3 separate regions of the Homo sapiens genome follow, and regions 2 and 3 are each linked to region 1. Evidence: fine-mapped expression QTL. A gene starts in region 1. Each other region holds a variant in brackets. All regions are shown on one strand. Distances are between the middles of the regions.

Region 1 (8,176 bases):
GCTGCTCTAAGGGATAACCTCTCATTTGTGTGAGCCTGCCTCTTGTTCAACTCTTGTTTGCAAGTACACTGATTTTGCACAGTGAGTGTGTTCTGTGTGACTCCTCACTAAATGCAAGCTCTGTGAGGGCAGTGATTTTGCTCTTCTGTTCTCAGCGATGTGTACAGGGCCTGACCCCCAGCAAATAATAAATATCGTTGATCATTCTCACAGGTGAACCACTGTACACGTCCACGATTATTTCCTTAGGATAGGTTCCACTTTCAGAAAAGAAAAGATGTAGAGCTGGGCGTGGTGACTCATGCCTGTAATCCCAGCACTTTGGGAGGCTGAGGCGGGAGGATCATTTGAGGTCAGGAGTTCGAGACCAGCCTGGGCAACACAGTGAAACCCCATCTGTACTAAAAATAAAATAAAATAAAAAAATTAGCCAGGCATGGTGGCACACGCCTGTAATCCCAGCTACTTGGGAGGCTGAGGCAGGAGAACTGCTTGAACCCAGGAGGCAGAGGCTACAGTAAGCTGAGATCATGCCACTGCACTACAGCCTGGGCGACAGAGTGAGACTCCGTCTCAAAAAGAAAAGAAAAGATGTGCCTGCTTTAGAGCTTTTGTGACATACTGTAACTGCAAAAGCTGTACCCGTTTCCACTCCAAGTCTGAAGGTCTCTGCCTTTTACCAATGCTGGATTACTAAGGTGATGAAGGAAAAAACATTTAACCTGGCATGAAAAATGTGAAACCCTACTAATGGTAAATTCTTCACCCAGTCCTTCATTTAAGCATACACTCTACATACCTGCCTGCGCACCTACTAAGTGCCAGGCACTGTTCCAATCCTGCCTCTCAGTGCTCACACACACTCAGCTGCAGGCGCAGGTCATCTGAAGATGCGGCTCGAGTTCATAAACCAGAATAAAACAAAATGACCTGGATTCCTCCCAACCTGCCTCTCTCAGAACGCTTCCAGCAGGCGCCCCCAGTCTGTGCCCAAGGAACTGCACTCCAGCCAAGGGTTCCAGGTAAGGAGAGGCCATTTTCTACCTTAGACTAGTCAGCCAGGTCCCAGGACTAGAATATATGGAAGGGGAACAGGAAGGGGATTTACCTTGGTTGGAATCGTCGAACCACATAACCCAACCTCTTCAGGTGGCTGAAGACCTCAAAAGAAAAAAAAAAAATGAAAGCTCAGATGGCCACTCTGGAAAACACCAAATGGTTTCTCCAGACACAGGCCATCCCCACAGCCCTCTCTGCCCCTCCTGTACACCCCCAGATTCTAAACCCTGTGATTAAGGTTGGACCATGCTTCATTACGAACACCATCCCTAAAGATCTCAGGCTCTGAATTCCTGTCCTCCCACTTACCTTACTCGGCACAAATGACATTTAGCCAAATCCAAAAAAACTGATAGCCATGAAACCAGAAAACCACCACGCCCTGAAATACTTGAGTATTTTGATACAAAGCTCATAGGAGTGAAGCTGCCGATCACCATGTGAACAAAATGATGGCAGGTGGTGGGCATCTCTCCAGCCCCACACCTCCACAGATGCCGGTGGGAAGTTTCTGGTAGGGAGCCACATATTCAACCTTGTGTCCCTGCATTCATATCAGAGGAACATAGATAAGAATGTCCCCCATCCTGCTTGATCTCAGCAGGCTTTAGCACAGCTAACCACTTCCTCCTTGAAAGACCTTCTTTTGGCTTCTGTGATGCGACTTTGGTTTTTCTCCTGCATCACCAGACACTCCTCGGTCTGTTTCTGCTTCTTATCTGCCCCCTAACCTACACAGAGAGCCCCAGGGCTCAGACCCAGCCCTCTACTCTGATGGCACTCCCATACAGCCCAGTAGTTTAAATACCATCCATGTGCTCATGGCACCCATATTTACATCTAGCCTTGACCTCTCCTCACACTCCAGACTTGGATTCCAATTGTCTGTCTGCTTTACACTCACTTGGATGTCCAAGAAGCTCCTCAAAATTAACTTATCTGACACAGTTCTTTCGACTGGTCTTGTCCTCCCAAATCTGCTCCTCTTCATTCTTCCCACTCAGAAAATGACAGCACCTTCATCCACTGGTGCATGCCCAAATCATGGGCGGTAATCCTGGGTTCTTCTCTCTCCTTAATCCTGACATCCAATCCATTGGCAGTCCTATCCATTCTTTCTCCAAAATATTTCTGAGATTCATCTATTTTTCACTCACTGCAACTCTACCCACCCCCAACCTGCGACAAGCCCCTAGCTTCTCTCACCTGAATGAACAGCCCAGTCTCTTTGGATTCTCTTCCCCCACCTTATCTTCTGACAGCACTGGGGTCTATGTGAAGCCAACAGGCCACCACCACAATGTAAGCCTCGTGACAGCATAGCCCTCGTCTGCCCTGCAGCCCCAGCATGTGACACTGTGCCTGGCACCTTATGGGTACTTGTCAATACTCATTGATTCAGTGGATGGGTGGCTCCCGGAGGCGGGGTGGTGGCAGATACCTGGTACTGCAGGAAGGTCACAGTGTGGTCGGTCAGCAGCAGCTGGTAAGCTTCCTGGATAGACAGTGGCAGGTCTTGGTGGAAGAGGTGGATGGAGCCCTGGAAGTGGGGCCAACAGCTCAGCTTATGAGCCCTCACTACAGTGCCACAGAGGAATGGGGCAACTTCCCAGCTCTGATACCTCCCCCTCCCCCTCTCAGCAGCGCATCAAGAATGTGGCCAACCAGGAAAGTGGGGCAGCATCACTAATGTGGACTGGAATCCCTGCTCCCTGCAACGTACCACCTCCTGCTTTAGAAGTTTGGTTATCAGTTCTCTAAAGACCGGGTTGTGTGTGCTTTTTCTCCGATAAAACGTGTCCTTCCCGTTCTTTGGTCCCAACTCCTTCCCCACCTCCCGGGCCCCACTTACACACTCCAGAAGATACAAGGCCTCTTCCGGGTGAAGGCGCTGCCGGCCCTGCTCTGAGAAGCCCATGGTCTGCCAGAATTTGCCCTGTGTGGGGCCCAGAGCAAGTGTCACAAGGGAGGGAGGGCAGGGAGGGCAGGGAGGGCGGTCCCCGGTCCCCGAGCCCGCCGCTCACCGCGGGAGACTTCAACTCCACGAAGCCCTCTTCTGGCCTCCACTCGGCAGCCACCAAGCTGCCCCTGGCGAGGAGTGGGGAGGGGTCTGCGTCAGTCCATTCCGGAGACCCCGCGGCCCGCCTCGCCCCCGCTTCCCTTACCCCTGGGCCCGCCCCTCTCACAGGCGCTCCACGCGCTGCTCTGCCAGCAGCTGCCAGAGCTCTTCCCGGCACCGGCGCAGCCGCTCGGCCTGAGCTGCCGAGCCGTCGGGCAGAAAGTCCTTGGGGCCATGCGAGCGCTGGGGCAGCTTCTGCGACCGCGAGCGGGCGGCGAAGAGCTCCCGGGCGCTGGGGGAGAAGGGGACGCGGGGTCAGCGCCGCGCATCGGGGGCCGCCTGGCCGGGTCCCGGGCGCCGGTTTCCCTACCCGCGCTGGCCCCGCGCCCCCGACACCCACTCCGGCCGGGCCGCGCCGCACCTGAGCACGCGCCCCGCGGGAACCTCCACGGCCGCGGGCTCGGGCTCGGGCTCCATCCCGCCGCCGCCTGCCGCTGCGCGCGCCGCCACGCCCCGCCCACCGCCGGAGCTCCGCGCTGCCCTAGTGCCCGCCGATCCGCAATGCCGCGGCAGCCCCGCCCCCTGCACCGCCCCAGCCCGCTCTGCGCCCTCCTGATTGTCCCCGGTCCTAGCGCCCGCCCGGAAGCGCACCCCGACGCCGGGTCTGGGAGCTCAGCCCGCAGGTTGCTGGAGATGCAGAAGGCCCCTCTTTTGCCCCTAGCCCTCCTCGGGGCTTCTCTCCAGTAAAGCCTGAGGAGCCGGCGTCTGGAGTGCAGTGCGAATGGTCACACTTGTGACCGCCCCTCTGCAGCCTCGCGCTGCTTAGTCCCCACCGCCCGGGCTGGGCAAGGAGGGCAGAAGGGCTCAGGGAAGGACGAGCGGAGGGTGTGCAAATTCCGACTTTGCAGGCCGAAGGCCACCCGGGAACTGTCAGGAGCGGTCCGGGGAGGTTCGCCATTCCTTCGGTGTCTTCCGTCCGGTCCCTACGGCTGGGCTCCGAAGCCAGGTTTCGAGGGCCGGGGGCGGGAGGCGCTGTCCGGCCCACGACGGTGCTGAAGCGCCACCTCCGCCCGGCACGAGCGCCTCCTCGAGGCTGGGGTCCCCGCACTGGTGCCGTCCGCTAGGTGGTGCCATTGCCCGGCCGGCGGCTGCGGGTGGGCGACGCCGGCCGCAGACGGGGGGTACTGCAAGTGGGGTCCCGCGTCTTGGTTGCCAACCCCCTTCACATTACGTCTTCTCTCCCACCAGTCAGACCCGGGGTGTCTAGCCCTTGGGTCTAAGTCCAGAGCCCCAGGTCACCTCTGCCCCCGCGCCCCCCGCCCCTCCGTTTCACCTGGGCGCATGCGCTGATCCGGTCAGCGCCCCCGGTCCGGGCGGGCACGAGTTGGGGCGGGATCTGGCGCGGATGGGGGCGGAGCCGCCGGTGCTGACTGACAGCCTGACTGCGCGGCCGGGACGGTCCCTCCGTTCCCGATCCGGCGGGAGGGAGGGGGGAGGGGCGGGATTTCCTGCGGGAGGCGCCGAGCCGGCCTTGGAAAAGGAGAAGGAGAAAGGGGGGCAGGGGGGAGTGGGAGCCACCGTCCTGAGTGCCAGGGACCGAGCAGGGCCAGCCGGACCCCGGCGGGCGGCCGGGAGAGGTGAGGCTGCGGGGCCCGCGCTGGGGGTCAGCGCCCCTGGGGGCGGGCGCAAACTAACTTTTCTTGCGGGGTCGGCGGGCACCTCCATCTCCCCGCTCCTTCCGTCCTCCTCGCGCCCCTTTTTCCATCCTCCGCGTTTATACCTCGGGCGCTTGGCCCGCCCGGCTTCTCCCGCCGCTTTGTTCCCCGGTGGGCCTGGGCTGGGCTGGGCTGGGCTGGGGGGTTGCGAGGCGCTGGAGGGACATTCCGGGGGGCGGGGGAGCCAGCCCGACCCCAGGCACTGCCAAGGGCGCCCTCCGCCCGTGTCGGCCGCGGGCTCCGCGTGGGAGTGCCCCTGGGTTGGGCTTGGGACGTTTGGGGAGTGAGGGGTTCCCGGCCAGGGCCCCAGGCCTGCGCGGATCTCATGCCACAAGACTCTGGCAGTAAATTCGCTGCCACCGAGAAACTGACGTAAGCTTCTCTGCGGTGGAGTCCAGGGTCTGGGCTTCAGGTTCAGGCTTGGGGGGCTTGGGAGCCCCGTTTGTCAGCAGTGCCCCAGCTCTCTCTGTTCTCTGCCCAGCTGCTCCTCCACCCGACACAAGGGGCGAGGGCGGGTCAGCAACAGGTGCTGTGCAGCTTCCCTCTCTAGCAGGCAGAGCCCCCAGAAATGGGGGGCCAGAAGCACTTCATGCTCTCCGTTCACAAAGAGTCCTAGGACTAGGGCATCCAGCCATTAAAGCGAAGCCTTGAAGCCTCCGTAGGGAGGAATCTGGGGGCTGGTGCCTTTGACAGGGAGTGACCCCTGCCCGCCTGCCTGTGCCTGACCCTCCCGGCCCCACCTCCTGGCCCGCCAGTTGTCTGTGGGTGTCGGAGCCTCGGGCTGTGGAGAACAGGCTGCTGGCCCGGCCTGCCCCAGTATGTCATGCTGCCAGGGCCCCTCCTGCCCAAGGTTGAGGTACTGCCAGGTGCCCTGGGGCCCCAGTGACTCAGCCTCCCCCTCCCAGAATGCCACCTCCCCCCCACCAATACTCCTCTCATGCATAGCAGCTTCCTCCCCACTTTCAGTGGCTCAGCATCACCATCGACTCCGAGGGGAGCCAGGGTGGCTTGGGGGCTCCCTGGAGGTCTTGTCCTGCTCATCCTCTGCACTCCACTTCTGGGACCCTTGCAGGCTGTGGCCCAGCATTCGACAGAGGCCCCGTGCTTTTTCCAGAGCCCTGAGACCAGTGCACCGCTGCTGCCTGAGGCCCAAGGGAATGCTGGCTGCTCTCTGGGTGGGCACTGGTGTTCCACAGCCAAGCCGGGAAGATTGGTGTGCCCAGTCCCAGCCCATCCTGGAGCTGTCGGAAGCCACAAGCTGATATCCATCCAGATTTCCATGTAGCCTTCACCCCCTCAAAGATTAGCTTTCCTTCGTGTGGTGGCAGTTCACGGAGCACCTTTGGGAGTATCCCTCAGTACCTGACGAGGAGCCCACTGCCTGGGACACCTGACTTGCTCCCCCGGAACCGGGAGCCCTCCAAGGGGCTGTGGCATGGCGCCCTGACGCCCCAGCTTGGACCCGTTGCCTGCCTTTGCCCTGGACTCCTGAGTGTAGAGCTCAGCCCAGGAGCCAGTATGGGTCGTGAACAGGACCTGATCCTCGCCGTCAAGAATGGAGATGTGACCGGTGTGCAGAAACTGGTGGCGAAGGTCAAGGCCACAAAGACAAGTGAGTACCGGGTGGGACGAGCATCCCGCTGAGGCCGAGCGCTCAGTTCACAGAGGCTTGGTGGGTGGGGGTGGGTCACTGTGATCTGCATATTTGAGGAGGGTGGACTGTCTTGTTCTCAGTAAGAAGTGCCTCTGTGTGAGAGAGCCAGAGAGAAAGTTGGGTCCCCCTTGCTGTGTGTCCTTAGGCAAGTCACTTAACCTCTCTGGGCTGCAGTTTCCTGGCCTGCAAAATTAGAGGGTTGAAGTACGTTCATTCACATTGTTATTGAGTGCCTATAGCTTGTCACCCAGGCTGGAGTACAGTGGCAGGATCTCGGCTCACGGGAACCTCCGCCTTCTGGGTTCAAGCCATTCTCCTGCCTCAGCCTCCCTAGTAGCTGGGATTACAGGTGTGTGCCACCATGCCCGGCTAATTTTTTTTTATATTTTTGGTAGAGATGGGGGTTTCACCATGTTGACCAGACTGGTCTCGAACTCCAGACCTCAAGTGATCCACCCACCTAGGTAGGCCTCCTAGTACTAGGATTACAGGCGTGAGTCACTGTGCCTGGCTCAGGCTCTGTTCTAAGCACTGGATCATAGTAGTGAACAAAACAGACCCAAATTCCTGTCTTCGTGGAGTTGCCTTCTAGCAGATGGTCTTTCTGATGTGTTCTTTGGAGCCATGAGATTTCTGACAGTGGGTTAGAGAAGACTGAATAGATAGAACTTCATCCCTACCCCCAACCTCAAACGCACACATTTCAACCAGAGCACCTCTATGTTCGTGTCTTAAGAGGATATCTATAAGATAGCTGTTTTTTTTTTTTGAGACGGAGTCTTGCTTTCTCACCCGGCCTGGAGTGCAGTGGCATGATCTCAGCGCACTGCAGCCTCTGCCTCCCGGGTTCAAGCTATTCTTCTGCCTCAGCCTCCCGAGTAGCTGGGATTACAGGTGCCTGACACAACGCCTGGCTAATTTTTACTAGAGACGGGGTTTCACCATCTAGGTCAGGCTGGTCTCGAACTCCTGACCTCAGGTGATCCACCCGCTTCAGCCTCCCAAAGTGCTAGGATTGCAGGCATGAGCCACCGCACCAGGCCACGAGATAGCTTTTAAAAAGGGAATTCTACTGCTTAAAAAAAGTTCAACACTCTCTAACAAGTTGCTAAAGTTTCTCTTCCCCTGACATGTGTGTCCTGGTGGGGTGTGGCCAGAGCTCATTTACTGGAGATTTTCACCTAGCCTCGAGACCTGACCGGGCTGTGGGGGATCCATGCACAAGCGGCCACACCTGAGCCCCATGTCTTGGGTACCTCTGTGGTGCGACCCCCCACAGGGAGAATAGACCTCTGGGCTTCAGGGAGGGCTCTCTGGGCTGTCCCAGGAGGCCGCTGGACTTGTCACCTTGAGATCCCAGATCAGCATAGGCAGGAGGTGGTTCCTGCCACCAGACTGAGGCAGGAGGAGTTCCCTGGATGGGAAGGTCTCCTCTGGAGTTCAGGGGCTCTAGCCCCAAGATACACCTCGGTCCTGTGCACAGGAAGGAGTCCCCCAGGCTACCTGAACACCTGGGGTATGGGTGCCAGAGGAAGGGCCTTAACCTCATGCATCCACTAGCACACTGGGGCAGGAGACGCAGGGCCTGGAGAGGTGGAGCTGTGGGGTGGTCTCTGTGCCTAGGGAAGTGGACACAGGGTGGGTGCCACTGGGGAGGTGCTAAGGAGGTCCCAGGGGAGGGCCCTAAGG
Region 2 (8,176 bases), 870 kb after region 1:
TCACCGTGTTAGCCAGGATGGTCTCGATCTCCTGACCTCGTGATCCGCCCACCTTGGCCTCCCAAAATGCTGGGATTACAGGCGTGAGCCACCGCACCCGGCCTACCTTGCACTCTTCACCTGCAGCTGTCAGTGTGGCTCCCACCCTTCTTTCAGGTCTCTGTTAAAATAAGATAACACTTTATCATAGATACCTTCTCTATAGATATTAATACAATAGCATTTGCCTCCCCTCACTCCCTCTACCCTTTTTGTCTTCGGGGCACTTATGACCACCTGGTACATTTTATATGTGTTTATTTTCTCCTCTCCCCCTCCCCCTAGGAGAATGTAAGCTTCCTGAGGACAGAAGCTTGATTTGTTTGTTGCTGCATTCCAGCACCTAGCACGGTATTTGGCATGTAGTAGGTGTCCAGTAAATATTTGTTGAGTTGAATGAATGATAATTTATTTGAGATTTGGAGGAAGAGTATGAGTTAACCAAGCAAAGAGAGGAAAGGAGCATTTTAGGCCCAGGAAACAGTGTGTGAACAGTCACTGTAATCAAGGGAATGTGTTCTGTCTGAGGAACCAAAATCTTTGTGGTTGCCCCTTGGGGATTAAGTGGGAGGTTATTATGGCTTGAGGCTTGGGAGGTCAGCAGGGGCCAAACTGAGGTCCAGTAGAGGAGTTGTAAGAGCCCTGGGAGGCTGTTAATGTTTCTTACAGGGGGAGTGGCAAGATCAGATTTGTTTGCAAAAATACCATTCTGGCTGCACAGTGGCGAAAAACTAAGAGTGAACGTGGGCAGACCACCTGGGAGGCTATTGACAGACGATGGTAGCTTGGGCTAGGTTGGCAGAGAAGGAGATAGAGAGATGGACAAATCTGAGAGCTTTAACAGGAGGCAACATTGAATGGGCTCCAGGCAGGACAGAGTGTGGGGATGAAGACACAGAGGGGTCAGGGATGAAAACTAGGAAACAGTGTAAGGTGATGGGACTCCTTTCTGGAGGGCATAATTGTGAGTTTACTTTGGACTTGTTGAGTTGGATGCATCTTTGAGACGGCTCAAGTGCAGATATCAAGGAGAGGGATGGCAAGGAGGTCTGAGGTTAGAAGAATGTTTGGACTGGAGATTGAGTTTTCCAGGAATCTGCTCAAAATGGTTTTTAGACCCAGGCTCTGACTGACTTTGAGGATAGTTATCTTGGGATCTGTAGCTTTATGTCTTGCTGAAACTGGGAAAATTTTAGCCGTTATGTTTTCAAATACCTTTTTGCAACTCTGCTTTCTTTCTTTTCTTCTTCTGGAACTTCAATGACATGAATGTTTGCTCTTTTATTACAGTCCCACAGCTACCTAAGGCTCTGTTCATCTTTTAAAGTCTATTTTCTCTCTTTTGCTCAGATCAGACAATTTCTATTGTTCTGTGTTCAAGTTCACCGATTCTTTCCTCTGTCCTCTCCCTCCTGATGTTGAGCCCATTAGCTGAATTTAAAAAATTTAGTTATCATATTTTTCATTTGTAAAATGTCCACTTGCTACTTCTTTGTGTCTATTTCCTTGCTGAGATTTTCTATCTTTTCATATATTTCAAGCATGTTGAGGAGATTGCCATAGCATTGTGTTTGAACACTTGCTTGTCAAGTAGTTGCTGCTTATCATCTCAGTTTCTTTCTTAAAAGAAAAAAAAAAGCAGTAGAATAAACAATGATTGCAGGTGTGAATGGAGACCACCATAAGAAGAGATAGGGAGGCACCAAAGCAGAAGGCAGAGCATGCAGCACTTGCTCTCTGTAGCATGGTCAGCCCAGAGTCTAGGAGGACTGGGCTGTATAGAGGGGAGAGCAGAGCTCAGTAGGCAGAACCATGAAGCTGCTTTTCACCACCTTCCTTCTCTCTCTTCTAGTTGCCTGGGGCAGAAGTGTTGATGGAGAAGTGGGTTAACATAGTAAGTATGTGGGGGACAGTTGAAATGGCAAAGACTTTCTGCTTATTTCTGGAGCCATGCATATGTGCTTAGTACAGGAATTGAGAAAATCATGTGTGTTATTCCAGAGATTAATTCCAACCTTTCTTACCTGCATATAGCATCAAAACCTCCTTCTTTATTTTGAAATAATTTTAGATAATTTAGTATCTTATAGTTTGTAAGAATCTTTCTTTCTTTCTTTCTTCTTTCTTTCTTTCTTTCTTCTTTCTTTCTTTCTTTCTTTCTTTCTTTCTTTCTTTCTTTCTTTCTTCTTTCTTTTTCTTTTTTTTTGGAGACAGAGTCTTGCTCTGTCACCCAGGTTGGAGTAGAGTGGCGCAATCTTGGCTCACTGCAACCTCCATCTCCTGGGTTCAAGCCTCCTGAGTAGCTGGGATTACAGGCACGCACCACCACACCTGGCTAATTTTTGGGTTTTTAGTAGAGACAGGGTTTCACCATATTGGCCAGGTTGGTCTCAAACTCCTGGTCTCAAGTGATCCACTCGCCTTGGCCTCCCAAAATGTTAGGATTACAGACATGAGCAACCACACCTGGCTGCAAGGTTGCTGAGTGGACGGACATTCACTCATTCATCTCTTCACACAGCATGCATTTACTGAGCACCCGCGGTGAGCTGGTCACTGTACTTACTGCTGGGATATGAAGATGAGTCAGACACCGCACCTGCTCTGGAGTGGGGGTTTCTATTCTTATTGGAGAGGGGAACATAGATAACCTCACTCTGGCTTCTGGTTGGGCTCAGGTTGTCAATGGAGGAAAATGACTGAGGCAAGTCTCAATCATTTTAGGAAGTTTATTTGCCAAAGTTAAGGAAACGCGCCTGGGAGACAGGTCTATACCTTTCTCTGAAGATGATTTTGGGGGCTTCAATATTTAAAAGGGAAAGGGTGGGATATTGAGAAATACACAATTTTCTTGTGAGAGGGGAGGTGGGGAAAATAGCCATTCAGGCCTTTGTCTGGCTCAGTGAATCTGCATTTTTACCTAAGATAACGTAAACAACAGGGCAGAGGAAACAGTCAGATATGCGTTTGTCTCAGGTGGGCAGAGGAATGACTTTGAGTTCTGTCCTGTGTCTCGCACCTGTGAAGATAAGCTATCAGTTTACATTGGCATGGGGAAATTTAACAGAAACGCTTTAAAGACCACAATGTGAGGGAGGTTGGTAGCCTGTCATCCTTGTCACCATCTCATTTAGGAACCAACATGGGAGGTAGGTTTGCATGACCCAGTTCCCTGCTTGACTTTTTCCTTTGGCTTAGTGAGTTTGGGGTCCCAAGATTTATTTTCTTTCCAAGGAATGGCAATGGGTGGTGCCAGCAGGAG[A/G]AAGGAAGGTGAGAGTTTCTCCTGCCCAGGTGCCACCCTGCTGGGCTGGAGTGTCCGTTTTCCTACTTTGAGGTCACAGCCCCTGTGGCATGGTCCTGTCCTACAGTTCCTGTGGGTTCTGGTTATTTCTGACACCTCTCCCTGTGTTAGAGGTGTCGTGGCCCTACTGCTGTTGCTAGTCCTGTTTTTTCTCCATCTCTTGTTGATTTCACTTAACTCTTTCCTTCTCTTTGTAAATTTCCCCTGCATTAGATTATTCTGTTATACCAACTGAGCCTGCCATTGGCCCACTCCCAGGATCCTGACAGAATCATGATCTCTCCTTCTTCTTTGTATACACAGCGCCTTTACTTAGTAGACGCTCATTAAGTGACTGTCCAATTAATAATAATGTAACATGTTAGGGGCTGTGTCAGCAATTTTTGGGTAAGATTTGCCCTCTGAACATCCAACTCCCTGTTTTGATGTCAGATAAATCTGCTGGATTAGTATATTTGAAGACACAATGATACATAAAAATGTGACTTAACTTGTCTGTTTTTGGAAGTTGTAGGCTCTTGAGAAACTGGGTGGGTGCCCTGTGATGCTAATTATTATGAGAATTAAAGCCACAAAGTTTCTGTTGTGATTAGTAGTTTTCCTGTCTCCAGCTTCTGCTTTTTCTGAACAGCTCTACGTATAAACATTGATGCAATGGGAAAACAACAAAACTGAGGTGTAGAAAAGAGAGACGCAAGGGAGTAGTAAGAAACATGAAAGCCAGTTTCAGTCCAGCTGACAGAAGCTCCCCAAATGTTGGCAGATGAGGCAGAGAGAGCAAAGAGACACAGTGACACATCTGCCCCTCCTGGACATCCTGGGTCCGGGGAGTGGGGTGGGGGAGGCTGGTGGGAGCATGAGGAACAGCAGGCCTAGTGGCTGGGGAAGGGGAGGTGGGTGGGGCTGGGGTGCACTGGGGAGAGGATGAGGGAATCAGAGGGATGACTAGAGTTTCAGGCTCCAGCCTCAGATGGGTGGGCTCTGCTGATAACAAACAGAGGCCCAAGGAAAGCGACTAAGCCAGGCCTGGTAGTCCAGAGGGCACAGAGGCAACCCAGGGTGTAGTGGGGAGCCCCTCCAGGGCCAGGCGAAGTCTTGCTCAGCATGAGGTCTGCAGCTGCAAACACAAAGTAGGACTCACACTTAGCAGGGCCTCCATATGCGGCAGCAGAATGCACAAATGGATTTGAGTTGTTCTGAACATTAGAGAAGCCCAGTGGGGAAAGGAATGCAGGGTCTGGGTCAGGTGCGGTGGCTCACGCCTGTAATCCCAGAGCTTTGGGAGGCTGAGGTGGGTGGACCACCTGAGGTCAGGAGAGGAGCGCCGTGTACCATCAAGACAGCCCTGGCAAATGCTTTTTCACAGTGGTCACAAAGAACCCCAGCAAGGAAGATGTGGCTGTGTGCTGGTGTGCAAAGAGAGATGTTTTTATGCACCCAGGGGACATGGGATGATTGCTGTTTTGTCACATGGGAGTGTCCTGTAACCCCCACCCTCCTTCCCAAAGAGCACAGACTGTGTCTGACAGCTGGTATGTGTGTGCACGTGCGCACATGTGTGCTTGCACACCTTCTGCAGGCTCCTCCTCTGTTCTAGCATCAGAGTCATATCTCTCTCATCTGTTTCTTTTTTCTTTTTCTTTTTTTTGAGTTGGAGTTTTGCTCTTGTCACCCAGGCTGGAGTGCAATGGCACGATCTTGGCTCACTGCAACTTCCTCCTCTCGGGTTCAAGGGATTCTCCTGCCTCAGCCTCCCAAGTAGCTGGGATTACAGGTACCCACCACCAATGCCCAGCTAACTTTTGTATTTTTAGTAGAGACAGGGTTTCACCATGTTGACCAGGCTGGTCTCCAACTCTTGGCCTCATGTGATCCACCCGCCTTGGCCTCCCAAAGTGCTGGGATTACAGGTGTGAGCCACCGCGCCCTGCCAGGGTGGGGGGTCCTAGCTAGGAATACATAGAAAGACTCTGGAGATTCTTTTAATAGGATATGCGAAACTCAGTGTATGTGTGTGTTTTCCTAGGGCATGGGTGTATAGCTTTTGTTACAATCTCAAGTGTATCTGTGACCTCAGCTCCCCGAAGTTAAGAACACAGGGGACTCTCTCTCGCCTTGAATCCTCCAGAATTCGCTCACCAGCCCTGTCTGGTGTGGATATGAAGGTGAAGGAGAGGCCTCGGAGGCTTAGGGCGGGACCCATGGGCTCCTAACAGTGGCATTGCTCATCTCTAATGTTCCAGGTCTTTTCTGGAGAGCCCTCTCTCCTATTCTAGGCTCTGCTTAGCACCGTCAACGTTGCATCCCTTAGTAGCCTGAAATAAAGGGGAGAGAAGCAAATGAAAAAGGAGACCCATGGGGAAGTTATTTGCACAGACGAAGGCAAGTGAGTCAGCTGTGCAGGGTGGGTCTCGGAGGAAGATGCAGGAGTCATGGGCGTGGTGAGGTGGGGGGCACTGGGGCTCGAAGCCCAGCAGTCGCTCACTTTGGGGCTTTTGTCCCTCTGCATAGGTGCTTCTAACGCTGCCAGCTCCTGATGCCAGCACTCCTTTCTCAGCCTGCTCTCTGCTCAAATTGAGTATTAAAAAAAGAAATAAAAGCCACAAATGGGCTGATGTGAGCAGATGGTTTCGGTCATAACCACAAAAACCTTCTTGTTTCCCGTTCCTGATCGACACTGCTCTTGCATAACGCCAAGTCCATGACACTGATGAAGAAAATGCTGGCATTATCTGCCTGTTCCAGGGATGATGGACTGAAAGTTTGTGTCCCCCTTCTTCCCCCACCAAAGATTCATATGTTGAAATCCTGACCATGAAGCTGATGGTATTGGGGGTTTGGGAAGCGATTAGGTCTTGAAACTGGAGCCCTCATAAATGGGATGAGTGCCCTCATAAAAGAGACTCCAGAGAGCTTTGTAGACCTCCCTCTCTGCCATGTGAAGATGGAAAGAGAAGGCAGTCATCTGCAACCCAGAAGAGGCCTTCGCCAGAGCCTGACCAGGCTGACACCCTGATCTTGGATGTCCAGCATCTATAACTGTAAGAAATAAATGACTGCTTAAGCTGCCCACTTTGTAGTATTTCAGTTACAGCAGGCTGAATGGAGCAAGACATAGGGTTGGCCACTGCAGGGCCCCCTCTTTTTTTCTGGACCAGAACGTGCTCGATGGAGTTTCTGGGCACCAAGAGACAGAGGGTGGTGGGAGAGTTCCCTTGTTCTTTATTCTGGATTGAAGTAAAATGCTCACACATAATTGATGTCATGAATTTTTTTTTTAAGTCGGCGTCTCAGTCTGTCACCCAGACTGGAGTATGGTAGCGTGTTCTCGGCTCACTGCAACCTCCACCTCCCGGGTTTAAGGACTCTTATGCCTCAGCCTTCCGAGTAGCTGGGATTACAGGCACGTGCTACCACGCCCTACTAATTTTGTATTTTTAGTAGAGATGGGGTTTCACCATGTTGGCCAGGCTGGTCTCAAACTCCTGACTTCAGGTGATCCAACTGCCTTGGCCTCCCAAAGTGCTGGGATTACAGGCGTGAGCCACCTCACTCGGCCCATGTCGTGACTTTTAGTATTTTTTGACCATGACTCACAGTGAGAAAGTTAGTTACTTGGCAATACTTGTATACGCATACAGAAAAAAAAAATAAAATCTCAGTGTTTATCATTATAACCTGAGATGTGCTCTGATTGATCCTGACATACCCTGTTACAGACCAAAACATGACTGAGGCAGGTCTCAGTGCATTAGAGGTTTGTTTAGCCAAGGTTGTCCAGGAAAAAAAAAACAAAACAAAACAGATCACAGATGCATTTTCCAAAGGAGGTTTTAGGAACTTTTTTTTTGTTTTTTGAGACGGAGTCCTGCTCTGTCACCCAGGCTGGAATGCAATGGCATGATCTCGGCTCACTGCAACCTCCGCCTCCCGGGTTCAAGCCATTCTCTTGCCTCAGTTTCCCGAGTAGCTGGGATTACAGGCACATACCACCATGCCCGGCTAATGTTTTTGTATTTTCAGTTGAGATGGGGTTTCACCATGTTGGCCAGGCTGGTCTGAAACTCCTGACCTCAGGTGATCTGCCCGCCTCAGCCTCCCAAGGTGCTGGGATTACAAGTGTGAGCCACTGTGCCCGACCGGGAACTTCAGTCTTTGAAGGAGGAAGAGAAAGCAGGAGGGAAAAAAGGGAGGGAGGGGAGGCAGGGAAGCAAATGGTTACATTCCCGTGAGGCTCTGATTAGCTTTGGTAAAACTACATTTTACACCTGGAAAGAGGAAGTGGAGGGAAAAGTCAATGATGTCTTGTGTGCAGCTCAGTTAATCTGCATTTGACTTAAGATAAAGTAAACATGTGAAGAGCGGGAGTACAGGGTTGTGCCATTGCAGCCATCTGTTTGGGAACAAGAGGAAGACAGCATTGGTGACCCAGTTCCTAAGCTTCTCTTCCCCTTTGGCATAGTGAGTTTGGGAATCTGAGATTCCATTGGTCTCTCACACTACTTGTAAGAAAAAAATCTGCTTAAGACCCACAACCAGGTTGCAACCCTCAGTTTGGACAACACTAGTCTCATCGTTTTTGCTTCCTGCCAGAAAGAGCAAATCTTCTGTGATAACAGTGTCTGGAGCCCCAGAACGGGTCACGCTCCCCTGGTAGCTGAGAAGGGGACAGGAATGACAGAGGATTTCTGCCTTCAGCCTGTCTCAGAGCCTTGATCCAGCAGGGGAAAGGAGCATTCTGACCTTTCTCCTTTTTTTTATATTAATCATTTTTTTTTCTGGTGTAGGGAATCATAGGACTCAAATGCAACTTCCACCCATGGGGAGGTCTAATGA
Region 3 (8,176 bases), 68 kb after region 1:
ATTGCTTGAGCCTAGGAGTTCAAGACCCACCTGGGGAACATAGCGAGATGCCTTCTCTATTAAAAAATTTTTCAAAAGAGAAAAAAGTATATAATAAAAAAGAAATAATGGGCTTCGAATCACACAGGGGAAAGGTTTGGAGGGAGATAGCAATGGATGAAGACAGAGGCTGGCATTCGGGGTCGGGACTGAGGATACTTGCAATGTGAGGCCTGGTGAAATTATCTGAGCCGTTGATTCTTGAACAGGTAGTTCCCATGTTCAGCTTGCTCCATCGGCAAGAGCCTTCTGCCTAGGCCGGGCGCGGTGGCTCCCGCCTATAATCCCAGCACTTTGGGAGGCCGAGGCGAGCGGATCACGAGGTCAGGAGATCGAGACCATCCTGGCTAACACGGTGAAACCTCGTCTCTACTAAAAATACAAAAAAAAAATTAGCCGGGCGTGGTGGCGAGTGCCTGTAGTCCCAGCTACTTGGGAGGCTGAGACAGGAGAATGGTGTCAACCCAGGAGGCGGAGCTTGCAGTGAGCTGAGGTCACGCCACTGCACTCCAGCCTGGGTGACAGAGCAAGACTCCGTCTCAGAAAAAAAAAAAAAAAAGAGCCTTTTGCCTCTAAGTTGTGAGTGATATTTTTAGGAGAAGCTGCTCCTTTAATCCCTGCATCGTGTAGTAGTGATATCTCACTGACAATAGGCTCCTCTTGGGCCCTTTGATTCAACCAAGAGGTCCCACTGAAGAACATTGTTGTAAATACTGCCAGCGAGACAATTCTGACACGTCTTTGTACCCCTAAAGAGTGGTCTGGGCCAAGCCTGTAATCCCAACACTTTAGGAGGCCAAGGTGGGAGAGTCACTTGAGCCCAGGAGTTTGAGACCAGCCAGGGAAACACAGGGAGCCTCCATTTCTACAAAAAATTTAAAAATAAAAATAATTAGCCAGGCATGGTGCACAACTGTGGTGCCAGCTACTCAGGAGACTGACGTGCAAGGATCATTTGAGCCCAGGATGTTGAGCCTGCAGTGAGCTGTGACTGTGACACTGCACTCCAGCCTGGGCGACAGAGTGAGACCTGCCTCAGAAAAACAAAAAAGGGCTGGGCGTGGTGGTTCACGCCTGTAATCCCAGCACTTTGGGAGGCCAAGACAGGCGGATCATGAGGTCAGGAGATCGAGACCATCCTGGCTAATACGGTGAAACCCCATCTCTACTAAAAATACAAAAAATTAGCCCGGCATGGTGGCGGGCACCTGTGGTCCCAGCTACTCGGGAGGCTGAGTCAGGAGAATGGCTTGAACCTGGGAGGTGGAGTTTGCAGTGAGCCGAGATCGTGCCGCTGCACTCCAGCCTGGGTGACAGAGCGAGACTCAGTCTCAAAAAAACAAAACAAAACAAAACAACAAAAAAAGTGTGGTCCAGAAATAGATGGCACAACTTTACAACACAACATGAGCACTGGCCACACTACGGTCCCCATTCCCATACTGCATTCACAGTCTGCAAAAGTTAGATCCCTAGGTAACAATAAATGGCCACCCAAAGACATTGTTCATAAGCACCCCAAATGGGAAACAAACTGAATATCCACCAGCTGGGGAACAGGTACCCAAATGGTGGTGGATCTGAACAAGGGATTACTACTCAGCCATACACATAAGTGAATGAGGCTGGACGTGGTGGCTCACTCCTGTAATCCCAGCACTTTGGGAGGCTGAGGCGGGCAGATCACCTGAGGTCAGGAGTTCAAGACCAGCCTGGTCAACATGGTGAAACTCTGTCTCTACAAAAAATACAAAGCTAGCTGGGCATGGTGGCGTGTGCCTGTAATCCCAGCTACCCAGGAGGCTCAGGCAGGAGAATTGCTTGAAACCGGGAGGCAGAGAGCCAAGATCGTACCACTGCACTCCAGCCTGGGTGACAGAGCAAGAATCTGTCTCTCAAATAAATAAATAAATACGTAAGTAAGTAAGTGAATGAGGCCACTGATACACATCCCAATCTGAAAGAATCACACAAATGGCATGAGGAAGGGAAGAAGCCAGACATAACAGGTTATGTACCCTGCAATTCCATTCATATCAACTCCTAAGATGGGAATCTGGAGGACAGGCAAGGATGGACTGCAGAAGGGCAGAAGGGAACTTTTGAGAGGTGAAGGAAATGCCCCATATCTTGATTAGGGTGAGAGTTATGTAGGTTTATACATTTATCAAAACTCGTTCAACTATGTACTTAAAATCTGTAGGTTTTAGTGTATTTAAACTATATCTCAATTTTTTAAATGTATGTGGCCGGGTGAGGTGGCCCATGCCTATAATCCCAGCACTTTGGGAGGCCAAGGCAGGCGGATCACCTGAGGTCAGGAGGTCAAGACCAGCCTGGCAAAACCTCATCTCTACTAAAATACCAAATTAGCCAGGCATGCAGGTGGGTGCCTGTAATCCCAGCTACTTGGGAGGTTGAGGGAGGAGAATCGCTTGAACCCAGGAGGCAGAGGTTTCAGTGAGCCTGGATTGCACCACTGCACTTCAGCCTGGGCAATAGAGCGAGACGCCATCTCAAAAAAAAAAAAGTACACACACACACACACACACACACACACACAGACTCTCTTTTTAATTTTTTTTTTGTAGAGATAGGGTCTCACTATGTTGCCCAGGATGGTCTCAAACTCCTGTTCTCAAGCAGCCCTCTTGCCTTGGCCTCCCAAAGTGCTAGGATTCAGCCAGTTGTGGTGGCTTACGCTTGTAATCCCAGCACTTTGGGAGGCCGAGGCGGGTGGATCACGAGGTCAGGAGATCGAGACCAGCCTGGCCAACATGGTGAAACCCCATCTCTACTAAAATACAAAAAACTAGCCGGGCATGGTGTTGGGCGCCTGTACTCCCAGCTACTCGGGAGGCTGAGGCAGGGGAATCGCTTGAACCCGGGAGGCAGAGATTGCAGCAAGCCGAGATCGCGCCACTGCACTCCAGCCTGGCGACAGAGCAAGACTCTGTCTCAAAAAAAAAAAAAAAAAGTGCTAGGATTCTGGGTGTGAGCCTATGTACACTTTCAGTTGGGGGATGATTTTGCCTCCTAGGGACATTTGGCAATGTCTGGAGACATTTTTGGTTGTCACTACAGGGGTTGGGAGAGGGCTGCTACTGGCATCTAATGTGTAGAGGCCAGGAATGTTGCTAAATATCCTACAACTTACAGTACAACCCACAACAAAGAATCATCTGGTTCAAAATGTCAATGGAGCAGTGGCTCATGCCTGTAATCCCAACACTTTGGGAGGCCGAGGTGGGCAGTTCACTTGAGGTCAGGAGTTCAAGACCAGCCTGGCCAGCATGGTGAAACCTCCTCTCTACAAAAAATACAAAAATTAGCCAGGCATGGTGGTGTGCACCTGAAATCCTAGCTACTTGGGAGGCTGAGGCAAGAGAATCACTTGAACCCGGAGGTGGAGGTTGCAGTGAGCCGAGATCATGCCATTGCACTCCAGCCTGGGTGACAGAGTAAGTGAGACTGTCTCAAAAAAAAAAAAAAAAAGCAATGGAGCAGAGGTTGCCTAGCCATAAGTTTAGCATCATGCGTGTATCATCTTACCGATCTTTGATATTCCCTGTACTGGAAGCCTCTTTTTGTTTGATTTCCAGGAATAATGAAATCAGTAGCCTTAGTCTATGCTCACAGACACCAAGGTCTTCCGTGTGCTGCAAAGCAGCCATCTTAACTTCCAGAGCAGAAGCTGTATTTCACTGCACATTCGTAGAAACTGAGACTAATCTTCGTTGCCTGTTGTGCTTGGATAGTTTGGCGTTTGGTCAGAGGGAGTGCAACAGAAGATAAAGCTAGACGAGATTGCGACTATTTTCTAAGGAGCCAGGGACGTTATGAATCACCAGAAGATAAATGCTGGAGGTGAACATTTCCTCCTCCAACATTTTTAAGTAGAGAAATGAGACAGTCAAGCTTAAGAGGAAGATGAGTTTGTAGAAGATAAGCTAGAAATAGCAGTCTTGGGTCAGGTGTATTAGCTCATGTCTGTTTAATCCCAGCACTTTGGGAGGCCAAGGCAGGAGGCTTGCGTGAGGCCAGGAGTTGGAGACCAGACTGGGCCACAAAGTGAGACCTTGTATTTACAAAAATTTTTTTAAAGATTTTAAAAAATTGGCCAGGCGTGGCGATGCATGCCTGTGGTCCCAGCTATAGTACATGGGAGGATCCGTTGAGCCCAGGAGGTCAAGGCTAGGGTCAGCTGTGTTCATGCCACTGTACTCCAGCCTGGGTGACACAGGAAGATTGTCTCAAAAGAAAGAAAAGAAAAGAAAAATAAGGGCCGGGCACGGTGGCTGATGCCTGTAATCCTAGCATTTTGGGAGGCCGAGGCGGGCAGATCACCTGAGGTCAGGAGTTCAAGACCAGCCTGGCCAACATGGTGAAACCACGTCTCTACTAAACATACAAATTAGCCAGGAGTGGTGGTGCACATCTGTAAGACCAGCTACTCGGGAGGCTGAAGCAGGAGAATCGCTTTTACCTGGCAGGCAGACGTTGCAGTGAGGCGAGATCACACCACTGCACTCCAGCCTGGTCAAGAGAGCAAGACTCTGTCTCAGAAAAAAAAAAAAAAAAAAGAAGAGAGAGAGAGAGACAGGAGCCAGTGGGGACAGG[T/A]AGCCAGCCGTGGTGGTCCAGGCACTAGCTGACGAGATACCCAGCCCTACTCCCATCCCAGAAACCTTATCTGGCACTTTATTTCCCAAATACCAATCCCAGTCATCTCTGCCTAGCATTCTTGACTATTTTTGAACGGCTTCTTAGCATTTGAGGTGTAAATATCACTTCATTCACTAAATTTTAAGCTCTTTGAGAGCAGGGATAGTGCCTTACTACTTTTTAATTTCTCTCAGATTATCAGAGGGATTGTTGACATGTACATTTGTGTCCTAACAGTGACACCAAAATTCCTCCTGGGGAGGAAACTGTCTTTGCATAGGAAAATCACTGGTAAATGTTTTAAGAAAAGATGAGACCCAGAGCCCAGGTCAGCCTGCATCAAAGCAGTAAGAGAATGAGCCCAAATGCTCTGCATTTTATTTATTTATTTTTTATTTTATTTTATTTTATTTTATTGAGGTGGAGTCTCGCTTTGTCATCTAGGTTGGAGTGCAGTGGCGCGATCTCGGCTCACTGCAACCTCCGCCTCCAAGGTTCGAGTGATTCTCCTGCCTCAGCCTCCCGAGTAGCTGGAACTACAGGTACCTGCCACCATGCCCAGCTAATTTTTGTATTTTTAGTAGAGACAGGGTTTCATTATATTGGCCAGGCTGGTCTCAAACTCCTGACCTCAAATGATCCACCCCCCTTTGCCTCCCAAAGTGCTGGGATTACAGGCATGAGCTACCATGCCTGGCCTGTTTTTATTTTATTTTATTTTATTATTTATTATTCATTTATCTATTTATTTATTTATTTTGGGATGGAGTCTCACTCTGTTTTCCAGGCTGGAGTGCAGTGGCGCAATCTCGGCTCACTGCAAGCTCTGCCTCCCGGGTTCACGCCATTCTCAGCCTCCCAAGTAGCTGGGACTACAGGCACCCGCCACCACGCCCGGCTGATTTTTTGTATTTTTAGTAGAGACAGGGTTTCACCATGTTAGCCACGATGGTCTCGATTTCTGACCTCGTGATCCGCCCGCCTCACCCTCCCAAAGTGTTGGGATTACAGGCGTGAGCCACCGCGCCTGGCCTATTTTTATTTGTTTATTTTTTGAGACGGAGTCTCACTCTGTTGCCCAGGCTAGAGTACAGTGGCATGATCTTGGCTCGCTGCAGCCTCCATGTCCCAGGTTCCAGCGATTCTCCTGCCTCGGCCTCCCGGGTATCTGGGATTCAGGCACGCGCTACCACACGTGGCTAATTTTTGTATTTTTAGTAGAGACGGGGTTTCACCATGTTGGATAGGCTGGTCTCGAACTCCTGACCTCAGGTGATCTGCCCATCTCGGCCTCCCAAAGTGCTGGCATTACAGGTGACAGCCACCATGCCCAGCCATAAATGGTTGCCAGGGGCTGGGGTGTGGGGAGAAGAATGAGGAGTGACTGCTTTTTTTTTTTTTTGAGATGGAGTTTCGCTCTTGTTGCCCAGACTGGAGTGCAATGGCACAATCTCGGCTCACTGCAACCTTTGCCTCCTGGGTTCAAGCGATTCTCCTGCCTCAGCCTCCCTAGTAGCTGGGATTACAGGTGCCCACCAGCACTCCCAGCTAATTTTTTGTATTTTTAGGAGAGACAGGGTTTCACTATGTTGCCCAGGCTGGTCTCGAACTCCTGACCTCAGGTGATCCACCCACCTCAGCCTCCCAAAGTGCTGGGATTACAGGGCGTGAGTCACCATGCCCAGCTGCTTTTTTTTTTTTTTTTTTTTAAATGGAGTCTTGCTCTGTTGCTCAGGCTGGAGTGCAGTGGTGTGATCTAGGCTCACTGCAACCTCTGCCTTCCTGGTTCAAGAAATCCTCCCACCTCAGTCTCCCAAGTAGCTGGGATCACAGGCGTGCGCCACCACACCTGGCTAATTTTGTATTTTTAGTAGAGCAAGTTCTGTGGGTTCTAACTCCAATTTGCTGTGTTGGCCAGGCTGGTCTAAAACTCCTGACCTCGAGAGATCCTCCCGCCTCGACCTCCCAAAGTGCTGGGATTACAGGCGTGAGCCACCACACCCAGCATGCATTTTAAAAATGAACCAAAAATTTAGAATTGGAAGAGAAAGAGAGGAGAGAGCAGAGAGGAAGGCTGAGCCATGTGTAAGGAAGCTGGAGCCTGAACGGTGGAAATGGCAGAGGACTTTTGGAGAAAAAACACTGACACTGAATTGAAAGCTGCTCACGTTTCTACGATGTAAATCCCTGCATCTTCCCAACTGTCCTACAGAGATCTCTACATGTATAGAAACCTTGTGTGAGCAGTTGGTTTAGTGACAAGTGGCAAGGGTATGTTTCACATCTCAGTCTGTGCTCTTGGATAAGGAACTACACCCATGGGATGGGGGGAGAGTCCCTCAAGTAAACCAGTTCATGGGAACCAGAAGCAACCATGAGAACATATGATCCTATGATCCTGCAAAGAAGTCTTCTTTTTTTTTTTTTTTTTTTTCTGAGACAGAGTCTCGCTCTGTTGCCCAGGTTGGAGTGCAATGGTGTGATCTCGGCTCACTGCAACCTCCGCCTCCCAGGTTCAAGCAATTCTCCTGCCTCAGTTTCCTGAATAGGGGGCATTACAGGCGCCTGCCACCACACCTGGCTAATTTTTGTATTTTTAGTAAAGATGGGGTTTCACCACGTTGGTCAGGCTGATCTCGAATTCCTGACCTCAGTGATCCACCCACCTTGTCCTACAAAAGTTCTGGAATTACAGGCGTGAGCCACTGCGTCCGGCCTCAAAGAAGTCTTTCGAACAGGGTTTAAGTAACAGTGTCTAGATCTATAAGGGCCAAAGAAGCCCCCTGCTGTACCTAAACAATATTTATATAGCTGCCTCTGGGGTTCTCTAAAACTGAGTTGGGGCCAGGCGAGGTGGCTCACGCCTGTAATCCCAGCACTTTGGGAGGCCGAGGCCGGAGGATCACGAGGTCAGGAGATTGAGACCATCCTGGCTAACACAGTGAAACCCCGTCTCTACTAAAAATACAAAAAAAATTGGCCGGGTGTTGTGGCGGGTGCCTGCAGTCCCAGCTACTTGGGAAGCTGAGGCAGGAGAATGGCATGAACCCGGGAGGCGGAGCTTGCAGTGAGCCAAGATCACACCACTGCACTCCAGCCTGGGCTACAGAGCAAGACTCCGTCTCAAAAAATAATAAAAAACTGAGTTGCTTCAATATGGGAGGTACGCTAATGGGAGGAGGTAGCTGGGTTCCTCCCAGTCCAGTAGAACACTGGCTCATCTACAGAGGGAGACACATTGTTTGAAACAGGATGGAGAGTATTGGAGAGGCAGTCAAACATCGCGCAGAGAAGCACTCTTTGTCAGTGAATGGTCAGGGCCTTGTAGGGTAACAAGACATGCTTCCTGAAACAGTTAGAGCTATTTTTGGCCCACCCTTCTCCATCTTAGAAATACTTTTTTCTGAGAGGCTGAGGCAGGAAGATTGCTCGAGGGCAGGAGTTGGAGGCCTCAGTGAGCTATGACAGCTTCAAT

Direction of the effects. Positions count from the first base shown, and alleles are read on the strand shown. Sizes are in standard deviations (SD) of each study's normalised expression.
As copies of A replace G in region 2, the expression in thyroid of the gene that starts at base 4,619 in region 1 goes up (small effect, 0.23 SD a copy in GTEx).
As copies of T replace A in region 3, the expression in tibial artery of the gene that starts at base 4,619 in region 1 goes down (moderate effect, 0.47 SD a copy in GTEx).

Evidence for each region. PIP is the estimated chance that this variant, and not a neighbour inherited with it, causes the effect. A credible set is the group of variants that fine-mapping cannot tell apart.
Region 2: its variant is the best candidate, but not a certain one, in a credible set for the expression of CASKIN2 in thyroid (GTEx, PIP 0.58).
Region 3: its variant is the best candidate, but not a certain one, in a credible set for the expression of CASKIN2 in tibial artery (GTEx, PIP 0.54).

The regions. Positions count from the first base shown.
Region 1 is chr17:75,511,980-75,520,155 of GRCh38, reverse strand. It overlaps CASKIN2 (CASK interacting protein 2), which reads left to right and starts at 4,619. Exons shown (of 20, transcript NM_020753.5): 1 at 4,619-4,755; 2 at 5,948-6,445. The coding sequence starts at 6,352. It overlaps TSEN54 (tRNA splicing endonuclease subunit 54), which reads right to left and starts at 3,628. Exons shown (of 11, transcript NM_207346.3): 1 at 3,540-3,628; 2 at 3,246-3,410; 3 at 3,084-3,147; 4 at 2,912-2,995; 5 at 2,501-2,599; 6 at 1,109-1,161. The coding sequence starts at 3,595. RefSeq lists silencers at 3,390-3,769, 4,160-4,769 and enhancers at 3,554-3,848, 4,943-5,509.
Region 2 is chr17:74,637,635-74,645,810 of GRCh38, reverse strand. No RefSeq gene overlaps it. Among named protein-coding and RNA genes, the nearest start is that of CD300E, 18 kb to the right of the region's middle. The variant A/G (reference allele first, on the strand shown) is at 3,302.
Region 3 is chr17:75,444,266-75,452,441 of GRCh38, reverse strand. No RefSeq gene overlaps it. Among named protein-coding and RNA genes, the nearest start is that of TMEM94, 8.3 kb to the left of the region's middle. The variant T/A (reference allele first, on the strand shown) is at 4,660.